3 separate regions of the Homo sapiens genome follow, and all the other regions are reported to be linked to region 3. Evidence: microRNA targets listed by miRTarBase, many of them from high-throughput screens and not tested one by one. Region 3 holds a microRNA gene; each other region holds the end of a gene's coding sequence.

Region 1 (4,000 bases), not on the chromosome of region 3:
CATCATTGTCATATACACATCTTCTGGATTTTTTAGCTTGCAAAAAAAATGAGCACCAAACCTGATATGATTCAAAAGTGTTTGTGGCTTGAGATCCTTATGGGTATATTCATTGCTGGCACCCTATCCCTGGACTGTAACTTACTGAACGTTCACCTGAGAAGAGTCACCTGGCAAAATCTGAGACATCTGAGTAGTATGAGCAATTCATTTCCTGTAGAATGTCTACGAGAAAACATAGCTTTTGAGTTGCCCCAAGAGTTTCTGCAATACACCCAACCTATGAAGAGGGACATCAAGAAGGCCTTCTATGAAATGTCCCTACAGGCCTTCAACATCTTCAGCCAACACACCTTCAAATATTGGAAAGAGAGACACCTCAAACAAATCCAAATAGGACTTGATCAGCAAGCAGAGTACCTGAACCAATGCTTGGAGGAAGACAAGAATGAAAATGAAGACATGAAAGAAATGAAAGAGAATGAGATGAAACCCTCAGAAGCCAGGGTCCCCCAGCTGAGCAGCCTGGAACTGAGGAGATATTTCCACAGGATAGACAATTTCCTGAAAGAAAAGAAATACAGTGACTGTGCCTGGGAGATTGTCCGAGTGGAAATCAGAAGATGTTTGTATTACTTTTACAAATTTACAGCTCTATTCAGGAGGAAATAAGGTATATTTTTGGAATTAAAATTCCTTTTCCCTCCGAAATCTCTTTCTCCTTCTCCTCCTCCAACTTCTTTTTAAGGATTGTTGTGCTGTCCTGTAAGCCTGTCCTCAGTTGGACTGGTAGCCTCGGAACATCAGGGACACTCACCTCTCTAAGGAGAGGTAATGCCAACCATCCTCAGGGTGACCAAGAGTCTCCTTAGAAAGTCTTTAAGACATTTTTAAAGGAATAAGATTCCCTCTCCGTCTTCTTCTATTCTCTCTTGCTCTTTTCTGTGGCCATTTTGAAAGAGCTTTGCTATATATACCACCTGTGGACTTCACCAAGACAATGGCTAGAGGATAGGGAGCAGAGAATGTTGCAAAATGGTAACATTTCAATGACTTAACTGTTTTGCTGCCAAGGTTGCTTATCCTATGAAAATTCAGCACATTAAAAGAGCTTATACATGCTCCCTAGAGTCAATACTCTTGCATTTTCCCCCTCCTGCTCGGGGGGAAAAAGGTTGACATTTCTGGCCCATTTCCTTCTCAGCTTGGTTTGTTTGAATTGATGCTTGTGGAATAGTATTTCATTACTTTAAGAGTGAAGATCCATAGTGAAATTGGATGGATGGTTGAATTAGACGACCATTAAGCTTTCATTTAACCTTTGAGAGTCTGTGATTCTAATGTAGCACACTCTTCATTCCTGATGTATATTGTTTGATTCCTACATCTAAAGGCATGGAAAATGCTGTGGAAAAGTATGGTACAGAATCTGTCTTTTACTGTTTTTCATGTGCCTGAAATAAAATGTCCAGAGTCATAATATGGAACAATTTTACATTAGATTTTCCTAGTTAGAAGACTACATTCTGTGAGTTAATTTAACTAGCTATTCCAATAATACATAATACTTTAATATCTTTTATCTTTTTAAAAGTTACTTTGCAGCCAGACTACCTAGATTATTTACTTTTCTAGCACGGCCCTTCATCTATATTAATTCACCACCTAGCTGACATGGATTTTCTCTTCCTCTCGCACCTCTATCTACCCCATTTCAGAATCATCTACCTTCAAGCAAGAATTAACAGAGATTGTGGCTACGCAAATGCACCAAAAAAGGGTGAAATATATCTGAAATGTACCTGGTTCTGCCCTTGGAAGCCATTTCCTGCTCATGCCACTAACAGCATGCTGCCAAACTGTTCAGATTCAAGATTATTCCAAGCGCAGGGCCCAAATGTTATAGCCAAAGAAAGTCTTATGATAAAAGTGAGGCAAATTTCAGCCAAGAAGTTAGAAGAGATGTTTAAAAGAACAAGAACAAATTGTGGATCATGGTATATGCAGGCTATCAGCAGAAGGATCAGACAATAAAATGAGTTAGTGCAAACCATTTAGTAAAAATAACTATCAGCAGAGTTGTTCCAGATTAAAAATAGTACTACAAGCTTGTAAAGGAGTTAGGACATGCAAGCTACTGAGCATAAAATATATACTTGCTATTTTTCATGACTTTCTCTAATAAAGTCTTTGCCTGTTCTCTCTAATAACTTTACTGGAATGAGGTCAATTACTTTAGTCATTTATGGTTGCAGTCCTGCCAAGTGTTTGCTATCCTGGAGGAAAGAGAATGGCTGAGAAAGCCGAGCTGAGCTTTCAGTTAATATACATTTTCTGAATGTGTGGCAGGGGTAGAAGTCAGAACAGTATGCTTTTTTAAAGATCACATCTAATCAAAAGAAAAAGGATAACATCTCCACTGGAAAAAAGGCAAGGGCACAAACTGACATCATCACAAAGGAAGAAATACTACAGACAATGTGAAAAATGTTTAATCTAACTTGATTTTTAAATGCAAAATAAGATGACAAGATACTCCCATCAGTATGACAGAAAAGAAAAAGAATGACAATATAAAATGTGAGTGGAGTGTAAGGTATAGGAGCCTTTGTGCATTACTGGGAGGAAAGTAAACTGGGACATGTTTTCTACAGGGAAATATGGCAATCTTCAATATCCTAAAGAACGCATCAGCCCCTGTGACCTAGGTATCACGTCTTCCGAAATTTATTCCAAGGAAATAGGTTTATGATATCTCCCCCTTTTACATTCATTTTCACCATTCGATATTTTCTATTTTTTCCTATAGTGATTTTTTTGGGAAGATTTTTAATTCTAAAAGAAACTGTACAAGCTTAACTTCCACTATAATTACCCTGTTTTCCTTAGCGGGGTAGGCCAAGACAAGAAATGCTCTTTTATTTTGTTAATGATGCCTTTGGGTACTTCTTGAGTAACTTTGGTCTTTTTTGTTGCTTCTGGGTTGCTGCTGCTAAATTTCAAAGGAATCCTTCCTTGGGGATCATTTTCATAATGAAATGTTTGTAAAGTGCCTTGCAGTACTTCAAAGATGTTGCTTTTTTTTCTTTTCCTGGTTCCACCGTTGGGAAGGTAAAGAGATATAATACCCAGAAATCACTAGAGAAAGTGCTCTATGTGTCGCATTCCTGGCTTAGCAGTCTCACTTCTTTTATGTTAAATGGAAACTCAAAAGTTCTGTTGAGTTCGCAAAGGGAAAACTCTCAGAGCTGTGCAGAGCCAAGCTTCTGGTATCCACTGACAATGTCTGAGTGGGTACATAGATCATAATGTTCCTACAGAAGCCTCTTTCTTCCCCTGGGTTGAGGAGGAATCAAAAGTGTAATTGAGCTTCCTTGGAAGAGGGACTCATTGGGGATCCCACAGGAAAAGCTGGCAACAGCAAGTCAACTGCAAGGCTATGGGGTAGCATAGGTTCTAACAGGTGCACAGTCTCAGTCAGCCTCCCCTCAGAGGCAAGACAACTCGCTGGGCACCATCTGGGGACCCTGACTTCTCAGAGTAGCTACTTTGCTTTTGCCCCAGTTCTTTAATCAATAATCCACACTAAGAATGAACACAATGTGTAAGCATCTGACTTGTGCAGGGAAACAGGGCCGCCTGCAACCCAACAAGCGCACCCACAGGGGAACTCGGGACCATCCTAAGCCACTTGTTCTCTGGGACGTGGAAGCAGGAACTGTGCTCTAGCCGTATCTGTGTTGCGTCGTCTGAGTCCTCTTTTTCTACAATGAAGAAAGGGGACTTGGGATTTAAACTTGGAGCGGTACTCAAAGCCAGAACTCCACGTTCATTCCGGAGTGAACCACCACACTACTATTTCCAGGCAACGTCATAAGGCTTCCTCGTTATTTGCATCTTCGTTCTCTTTTTGGCGACTAGCCTGCCCTCCCGCCCTTGGAAACTTGTGGACCCCAGAATCTCAGCTTTCCGCCTACCAAAGGTGCCCCGATCCCCTCCC
Region 2 (4,156 bases), not on the chromosome of region 3:
TCCACCAGGCTCTGGGGTGAGCAAAAACAGACTCCTTCAGCTCTGCTTAGTCCTCTAGATACTTGAACATACCTCCTTCCCATCCACAGCCTGTGCATGTGGTTTCCCTTGTTCTGGAATCCAGTCCTTTCCCTCTCCTTCTTTCTCTACCTTCCTGACTTTGCCCAGTCAACACCTACTCACCCATCAGATCTGATTACACACCATTCATTCAGGGATATCTTATCCGACCTGAAGCTAGTTTAGGTCCCCCTGTATACGCTCTTAACTGCTCCCTATGTTTGACTTCACAGCACTCACCACATTTTCTTTTTTAACATTTGTTCCTGTGGTGATATGGTGATTTGGTTTATACCCATCTTCCTTGCCAGGAAGCGCCAGGAGCTTCTACGTCTGGTTTTTGCTTACCATCGTTTCCCTCCGGTGCTCAGCTGGTGCTCCACAGGCAATTTACTGATTGACTAAATGAATGAGTAAACAATTCCCCCATAAGAGTATTCAGAGTTCTGCCCTTCAGGGAAATGTTGGCACCTCTGCCTCACTGTACATAGGAGCTGGTGGGTGATGGCTGAGGAGGGGAGGCCGGGAGGGGCATACATATAGGAGCTCTCACCAAGCAGAGAGCTGAATGAGTGTGCTAGTCCCTTCCTGCCCCTTACTGTCCCTAGAGCGCTGTGACTTAGCCCTGCCCACCTCTCCAACCCCATCTAGCACCTCTCCCCTTTGATGCTCCAGCAAGAGGAGCTCCTGCTCCTTTGTCCCTGGAATTCCCAGCCTCCTGCATACTGACCCCTCCATCTGCAACTTGCCTCCTCCTTCCTTTCACAAGGCTGGCTCCTCCCTATCCTTCTTCAGGTCCAGTTTAAATGCTGCTTTTTTTTTTTTTTTTTTTGAGATGGAGTCTCGCACTGTTACCTGGGCTGGAGTGCAGTAACAAGATCTCGGCTCACTGCAACCTCCGCCTCCCAGGTTCAAGCGATTCTCCTGCCTCAGCCTATCGAGTAGCTGGGACTACAAGCGCGCACCACCACACCCGGCTAATTTTTTGTATTTTTAGTAGAGATGAGGTTTCACCATGTTGGCCAGGTTGGTCTTGAACTCTTGACCTCGTGATCCGCCTGCTTCAGCCTCCCAAAGTGCTGGGATTACAGGCATGAGCCAGCATGCCCGGCCTAAATGCTGCTGCTTTTTTTTTTTTTTTTTGAGACAGAGTCTCCCTCTGTCACCCAGGCTGGAGTGCAGTGGCGCGATCTCGGCTCACTGCAACCTCCGCCTCTCAGGTTCATGCCATTCTCCTGCCTCAGCCTCCCGAGTAGCTGGGACTACAGGTGCCCGCCACCACGCCCGGAGAATTTTTTGTATTTTTAGTAGAGACGGGGTTTCACTGTGTTAGCCAGGATGGTCTCGATCTCCTGACCTCGTGATCTGCCCACCTTGGCCTCCCAAAGTGCTGGGATTACAGGCGTGAGCCACCACGCCTGTCCTGTTTTTGTTTTTTGAGATAGGGTCTCACTCTGTTGCCCAGGCTGGAGTGCAGTGACACAATCAGGGCTCACTGCAGCCTTGACTTCCCAGGCTCAGATGATTCTCCCACTTCAGCCTCCTGAGTAGGTGGGATTACAGGCATGTGCCACCACGCCTGGCTAATTTTTGAATTTTTGTTAGAGATGGGGTTTCACCATGTTGCCTAGGCTGGTCTTAGAACTCTTGGGCTGAAGCAATCTACTGGCCTTGGCCTCCCAAAGTGTTGGCATTACAGGCATGAGTGCAGTGTTTTTTATACCTAATCTCAGATGTGACACACCATCACTTCTGCCGTATTCTATTGGCCACTCAACCCAACCCTGATACAACATAGGAAGGAACTACACAAGGGTGTGAATACTAGGAGGTAGGGGACATCATCGAGAGGTCATTACAGAGGCTGACGACCACATTGTCAAAAATGAGGATGCCGGTGGCTCACGCCTGTAATCCCAGCACTTTGGGAGGGCGAGGCAGGCGGATCACAAGGTCAGGAGATAAGAGAACATCCTGGCTAACACGGTGAAACCCCATCTCTACTAAAAATACAAAAATTAGGCAGGCGTGGTGGCTGGCGCCTGTAGTTCCAGCTACTCGGGAGGCTGAGGTAGGGGAATCGCTTGAACCTGGGAGGTGGACGTTGCAGTGAGCTGAGATTGCACCACTGCCCTCCAGCCTGGGCGATGGAGCCAGACTCCGTCTCAAAAAAAAAAAAATGAGGATACCCTTCCTGAAGCCCCCAGGAGGCTTCCCTTCATGTCTACTGGCTGAAACTGTGTCACATGTCCATGCCTACACCAGTCAATCATGAGGGGTTTGGGACCATTGTTTTTGATCCCAGTCACAATCACGATTCACCCCTGCGGCTAAGATCCACCTCCACTGAAGCACAGGGTGCCATCTAAAAGAAAGATGGCTACCTGAATAGAGATTATTTGGAATGAGGAAGGGGCAATGGGAATAGATGTTGAGTGGGCAGCCCACAGTGTCCACGACACTCACCCACTAGACTATAAACTGCACAAGGACAGAGATTACATCCTTTCTGACTATTGCATCCCCAGTGCATAGCCTACTGCCTGACACAGAGTAGATGCAACAGTATTTGTTGAATAAATAAATGAATGAATTCATGACTAAACTGGAAGACCATAGGGCAGGAGTTCAGGACTAATACCACCAGCCCGAGGCTTCTTCAGTTCTTAGAACTCAGGAGGCCATCTGCTCCCACCTCCGCCACCAGCTCCAAGAACAGGCAGGATTGGCAGAATTATTCTTTATTTCTGGAGACATTTAATCAGATGCAGTAACACTGATTCCAGGCGAGGGCAGGGGGCATGGGTACCCCTGAAGCAACCAGTATCCTGTGGCCCAAGGTGTCCCCCATCCCCAGACCTGGGATCCCCCTCAGTTACAGTTAAATAGAGAGAGGAAGATCTCCCCAGGGGGCTTTGGGGGGAGGGTCTGCCTCCTGCACCCACCCTCTCCACGCAGAGGAGTCTGAGCACAAGCTATTTACAGTATTCACATCCACTGTACCCCACCAAATCAAGGCAAATACTACAGGTGGCCCCTCCCCAAGGGAAGAGGCCAGAGAGGCTGTGAGTGTATATGTGTGTATGGGGGAGAAGGGATGTCTGCGCGTGCGAGCACACGAATGCACTGAGGGGCAGATCTGGCTCCGGCCAAAGAGACATCAGTCTATAAGGTGCAGATTAAAAACAACAGAGAGGACCCACCCCCAGGGGCCCAGGCCACTTCCATCTTTGTTCTGTCTTTTTCTCCTCCAGACATCCTGGTAGGTGATGCAGAGGAGCCCTCACAACTGTGCCCGGATCCAAGGCAAACCCTCTTAAAGGACTTCTGGGGAAAAACAGGAAGGGAAACAGTCAGGGCAAACAGCACTCAAGCCCAGATAGCTGGGGGTCTTCAGGGTGGAGCAGGAGAGGGTGCCTGGCAGAGCCAGAAGAGAAGGCAGGGCTGAGGAGTACAGGGAAGGCTGCTGGGAGGAATGGAGCTGGGTCCAGGAATCAGGAGATCTACCTGTGACCTGCGGGGACTGCACCACAGCTTTCTTGAGGAAGGCTTCTGCCTCTGCAAAGGGCAGGAGTGTCTCTGGTGTTCGGCTCAGACTCTTGTCCCCAGAGGGTCCGTTGGTGGAGAAGCCATTCTCCTGGTGTGCTGGGAGAGGCTGCAGGCCATTCACCAGGGACGCTGGCAACTCCTTGCTTGGGAGACTGTGGATGCAGAGGCCAAGGCTCAGCACCTCACCTCCCAGGAAAGCCCAGGCCACCCCGCAGCTCCAGCTGCAGTCTGCCTCCCTGCTCAGGGACCCTGGGATTGGAAGCTGGTACCTCCACTGAGGCTCCTGTGGGATGGGCTCCTCTTTCTGCACAGCCTCCTTCTGCAGCCCTGGGGACCGAGCCTCCACAGCTTTCACAGGCTCTGTCACAGGGAAAGAGGGGCCATCAGCCAGGGGCTGGCAAGAGAGGTGAGGATGGAGGAGGAGGAGGATGGCAAAGGGAAGGGAGGCGAGAGGAATGGGGGCTTTACCTGGGCTGGAACCGTTGGCGTTGGCCTCCTTGCTGTCCTGCTTCTGCTTTGAAGAGGAAGAGCAGTCAGGCTCAAGGGA
Region 3 (4,156 bases):
GGCACGAGAATCGCTTGAATCCAGGAGGTGGAGGTTGTAGTGGGCCAAGATCACGCCACTGCACTGCAGCCCGGGCGACAGCGAGACTCCATCTCAAAAAAAGAAAAACAATCAGCGATTTTGTGAGAAAAGCCGTTGAGGTCCTCTCAAATCTGCATGTGAGCAAGTAGGTCTACAACAGGCAAACATACTGCTTCCCGACTTCTGAAAAGTCAAGGAATCCTAAGTAATCTAGATGAAAAAGTGACTCCTTGGTTTCTTCACATTCCCCTCCAAGAGCCCAGTGAGCCATCAGCTCCTGGCCAGCAACACACCTGATACAAAATGGGAGAAGTGTATAAATTATTATGTTGATAAGCAAGATAAGTGCCAAAGGGTAGATAAGAGTGAAAGCATTGGGAAGCCTGGCAGAGTGCAGTCAGCAGGTCAGTTCCTGGCGGTTCATTGAGCAGCTTGGCCCAAAGATGTAAGTGAAGTCCCTCCTGGTGGAGGGATGAGAGCAGCTCCAGTTACTCGGCCTTCATGACACAGGAAGTTGAAGGTGGCACAGGCATTGGGCTGCAAAGAAAAGGCCAGCATCAGCCTGTCTAGCGCCAGGCCTGTGCTCCCCGCAGCATGCCCCAGTCCCGGGACTCACCGTGTCCTGCACTTCCACAGCAATGCCCCGCTGCCTCATGGCTTGAAGCACCTGGGACTGCAGCCTCTCGGTCCGGTCTCCAGTCCCCACCACCACGATCTCTAGGGAAGGGTGGGTGTGGCTAGTCTACAGTTCTGTTGAGAGGCTGCAGTGGGGGTCGCCTTCTGGGGCCCAGAACACCTCTGTTCTCCCTCCCCTTCCCCAGTACCTATCCGGGGCTCCAGCAACCAGAAGAGGGAAAAGCTGTCTTCGGTGATGTCCTGGTGGGATCCCACCTGTGCAGGGAGGAGGCACATTTAATACGACAAATCCACGCAGCCTCTCCCCATCTCCATCCACTGCAGGAGGAGACAGAGGAAAGCCAAGTTTGCAGGGACCAAGCAGGGTGAGGGCCTGTGACTCTGGGCCTCAGTTTCCACACTGCGGGCCAGGACTCACGTTCCACTGCACCACCGAGTGCGGGAGCAGAGCGCAGGGGCCGAGCACGCGGTTTCCGTTTATCATGAAGCCGCGGCTGTTGTAGCTGTCGATGTACATTGCCTGAGCGGCCTCGCGTTGCAGCAGAGAGATGCGCGTCCGCTGATACAGCTCGTCATCCGCCGGCGAGAGCCGATGCCCTCGCCGCGGGGCCCTGCGGAGGGAAAGGGTCAGGGGCGCGGGGCCGGGCCGGGCAGCCCGAGAGGCCGGAAGGTGCTGGGCTGGCAGTCGCCGGCCCTAGGGGGCTGGATGGTCGAGGGCGCGGGGTCCAAGCTCACCAGGGAAGCTCAACGGGCGGACAGCGCAGCGAGGGTCGCGCTCGGTACAAGCTACGTAGCGCGAGAGCGGTGGCCATGGCTGACCAACGCGCGGCGAAGTCGTCACCGGCGCCGTTAGTCCCCGGGTTGGGAGGGCCCTGCGGAGCCTGACCCAGCGTGGCTGCAGCGCCCCCTGCGTCCCGGAGGGCACCGCACAGCTCGACCGGCCCAGCAGGCGAGTGTCCTCAGTCTTAGGAGGCCGAGTTCCCCGACCTCCGGCGCAGCTCCAGTGTCAGCACCTGCCGCCCTCCCCGCCCCGGGCCCTTGCCCATAGTCCCGGGGGAGTGGAACACCTGGCAGCGTGGCCACCCTCAGGGCGTTGCCTGGGCCGCAGCCGCGGCCTGGCCCCCGGGCTCTCAGCTATTAAGCCGCGCTCCCGGGGCGGGGCGACCGCCCACCTGGTCGCGTCCCGAACACCTGGCCAGGCGGTGGGTGCCAGACTTCTAGCCCCTAATTCCAGCCTTTGGGGCTTCGGGCACCGTGGGCGGGGCAGCCGGCTCAAGTTTCTCCGGCTAGACGCGGAAGCACGCCCCGCCCTAACCGTCACCCGCGCGACCGTTGGCCTCTCCGCAGCGCGCGGAGAGGGGCGTGGCCGAGCGTGGATTGGCTTCTCGGGTTCTCTAGGGGGCGTGGCCAGGTGGTTTCTCCTTAAAATGGCTCCAAGTCTGCAGGCAGCCAGAGCAAGCGGAAGGGCAAGCTGTGATAGTGTTTGGGTGGCTGTTCGGCTGGCCCAGACCAGGCCGAACCGGACCAGACTTGAAGTAGAAGCGCGTGGAGCATCACCTTGTCCTCGTTCACTCTGCTCGCGTCCTGGGAGTCCCCCGTCCCCCGTCTTGATCCAAGTCAAGGGCCTACTGGCGCGAGAGTCGCTGGCCCCCGCGCGGGGTTTGGGCATCTCGGCACGCCGGCTCTGTCGTGGCCTCAGGGGAACATTGTCGCTTTCGCTACCCGCGGGGCCGGGCGAGCGGGAAGCTCGGCACAGTGGGAGCCTGGTGGTGGGTCTCCTGGGGCCGGTCGCAATGGGTTTCCGGGGGTCCCGCGGCTGCTCTGTGGACCCCTTCGGCCCCTGGTGCTCCGGGCGCTGGCAGCGTCACCGGACAAAGGCCACCGAGCGCGGGGGTGTCCCCGAGGTGGACGCGCGGGTTTACTTCCTCTCCGGCCCCACGGGCGCGCTTCCCTCCTGACGGATTCCGAAGCCCGCCCCACCACCGTCACCGCACCAGTGGCCCAGGCTTCGTGGGACCAACAGGGCTAATCCTGCCCCACGGATCTAATCCGGATCGGGACCCGGTCCCAGGGGAGGCCCCCACCTCCCCTTCTATTGTTCTGTGGCCCAGGTGAGCGTCTTGTTCCCTCTAGACTCCGTTTCACAACCTACTCCCGGGTCTTCCTCCTGGGACTGGGGATGGGCGGGTTCTGATGTGGCCCCAGGGCGAGTGACCTGGGGGCAGGAGCTCCCCCGCCCCCCGCCAACGGCTGGACAGCGGGCAACGGAATCCCAAAAGCAGCTGTTGTCTCCAGAGCATTCCAGCTGCGCTTGGATTTCGTCCCCTGCTCTCCTGCCTGAGCAGCGCCCTGGCCCAGATGGGGTGCCCCTGACCCCCAGACATACTTTACTGAGCTGCTTGGGTCTCAGTTCCTCTCAGTTGCGCCCTCAGGCTGGAGGTGATGGGTGTAGACGTGGGAGAGCCGAGGCTGGTGGCCATCTCTGGAACCCTGGGGAGGATTGGCGAGGGAGGGTGGACCCAGGACCTCTGGGTAGGGCTGCAATGGTAGTGACTCCCCCAGGGCTGCCTCAGCCCGCATCTCGCTAAAGATAGCCCTCTTACTTCCTGGGGAAAAACCACCCCAACCGTCTTCGTGGATGAGAGTATCTGAAGTCCTCAGTTTGACTGAGGGTTCCCAACCCTGCTAAGCAGTTGTCTCCAGGTCATGCACCTTCAGAATGGAAAGCGCTTTGGAATGACACGATCACTCCCGTTGAGTGGGCACCCGAGAAGCCATCGGGAATGTCGTGTCCGCCCAGTGCTCTTTCGGCGCCTCCCAGCAGGGCCTCAGCCCTGGCCCAGAAAGGGGCCTTGCCAAGCTTTTCCTGCCCCTGGGTTTCCCTGCTCTCCGGATTTCCCAACTCTCTCTACTGAGTTAGCTTCTCTATTAAAAGGAATGGGGGTGGGGTGGGGGGTGAGTAAGTTACAGTGAAATGAAGACATTTGGGAACCTTTGTGGGAGAAAGAAAAAGACCTTTCCTATTGGTAGAGGAGCAAGATACTCCAACTGAGGCCTATTTTCTATTATGGTCGCATTATTTGGTTGGCCCGTAAATGGCTGTTGCCTAAAACAGGAAGCTTTAAGGATCGTTGTTAAAGCACACCAGGTTAAAGGAGTCACATTAAAAGCTGGTCATTCTGAGCCGGGCGCGGTGGCTCACGCCTGTAATCCCAGCACTTTGGGAGGCCGAGGCAGGCGGATCACCTGAGGTCGGGAGTTCGAGGCTTGACAAACATGGAGAAACCCCGTCTCTATTAAAAATACAAAAGTAGCCGGGCGTGGTGGCGCGTGCCTGTAATCCCAGCTACTTGGGAGACTGAGGCAGGATAATCACTTGAACCCGGGAGGGGGAGGTTGCGGTGAGCCAAGATCACACCACTGTACTCCAGCCTGGGCAACAGGAGCGAAACTCCGTCTCAAAAAAAAAAAAAAAAAGTCTGGTAATTCTGGAAGCCAT

What was found. The annotated mature microRNA hsa-miR-191-3p reads GCUGCGCUUGGAUUUCGUCCCC and lies in region 3 at 2,962-2,983, shown strand. An mRNA with a match to its seed (bases 2 to 7 or 8) in the 3' UTR can be bound and repressed. Matches are read on the target gene's strand: a 7mer-m8 pairs with bases 2 to 8, a 7mer-A1 pairs with bases 2 to 7 and ends in A, and an 8mer does both.
Region 1: miRTarBase lists IFNK as a target of hsa-miR-191-3p. Seed matches in the 3' UTR shown: 7mer-m8 at 1,884-1,890.
Region 2: the mRNA of MAP7D1 is a reported target of hsa-miR-191-3p. Seed matches in the 3' UTR shown: 7mer-A1 at 3,161-3,167.

Annotation. Positions count from the first base shown.
Region 1 is chr9:27,524,289-27,528,288 of GRCh38, forward strand. IFNK (interferon kappa) reads left to right here and starts at 2. Exons shown (of 2, transcript NM_020124.3): 1 at 2-673; 2 at 1,719-2,210. The coding sequence starts at 49. The coding sequence ends at 672. The region is part of intron 1 of MOB3B (MOB kinase activator 3B); the gene reads right to left.
Region 2 is chr1:36,179,479-36,183,634 of GRCh38, reverse strand. MAP7D1 (MAP7 domain containing 1) reads right to left here. Exons shown (of 17, transcript NM_001388490.1): 14 at 4,078-4,120; 15 at 3,879-3,969; 16 at 3,568-3,761; 17 at 2,786-3,387. The coding sequence ends at 3,377. Among named protein-coding and RNA genes, the nearest start is that of MAP7D1, 25 kb to the right of the region's middle.
Region 3 is chr3:49,019,458-49,023,613 of GRCh38, reverse strand. It overlaps MIR191 (microRNA 191), which reads left to right and starts at 2,905; the gene lies at 2,905-2,996. It overlaps NDUFAF3 (NADH:ubiquinone oxidoreductase complex assembly factor 3), which reads right to left and starts at 1,493. Exons shown (of 5, transcript NM_199069.2): 1 at 1,393-1,493; 2 at 1,076-1,268; 3 at 846-912; 4 at 638-738; 5 at 119-558. The coding sequence starts at 1,469. The coding sequence ends at 442. MIR425 (microRNA 425) reads left to right here and starts at 3,380; the gene lies at 3,380-3,466. It also overlaps a transcript of DALRD3 not described here. RefSeq lists silencers at 1,103-1,152, 1,213-1,332, 1,373-1,472, 1,693-1,882, 1,919-2,121 and an enhancer at 1,637-2,406.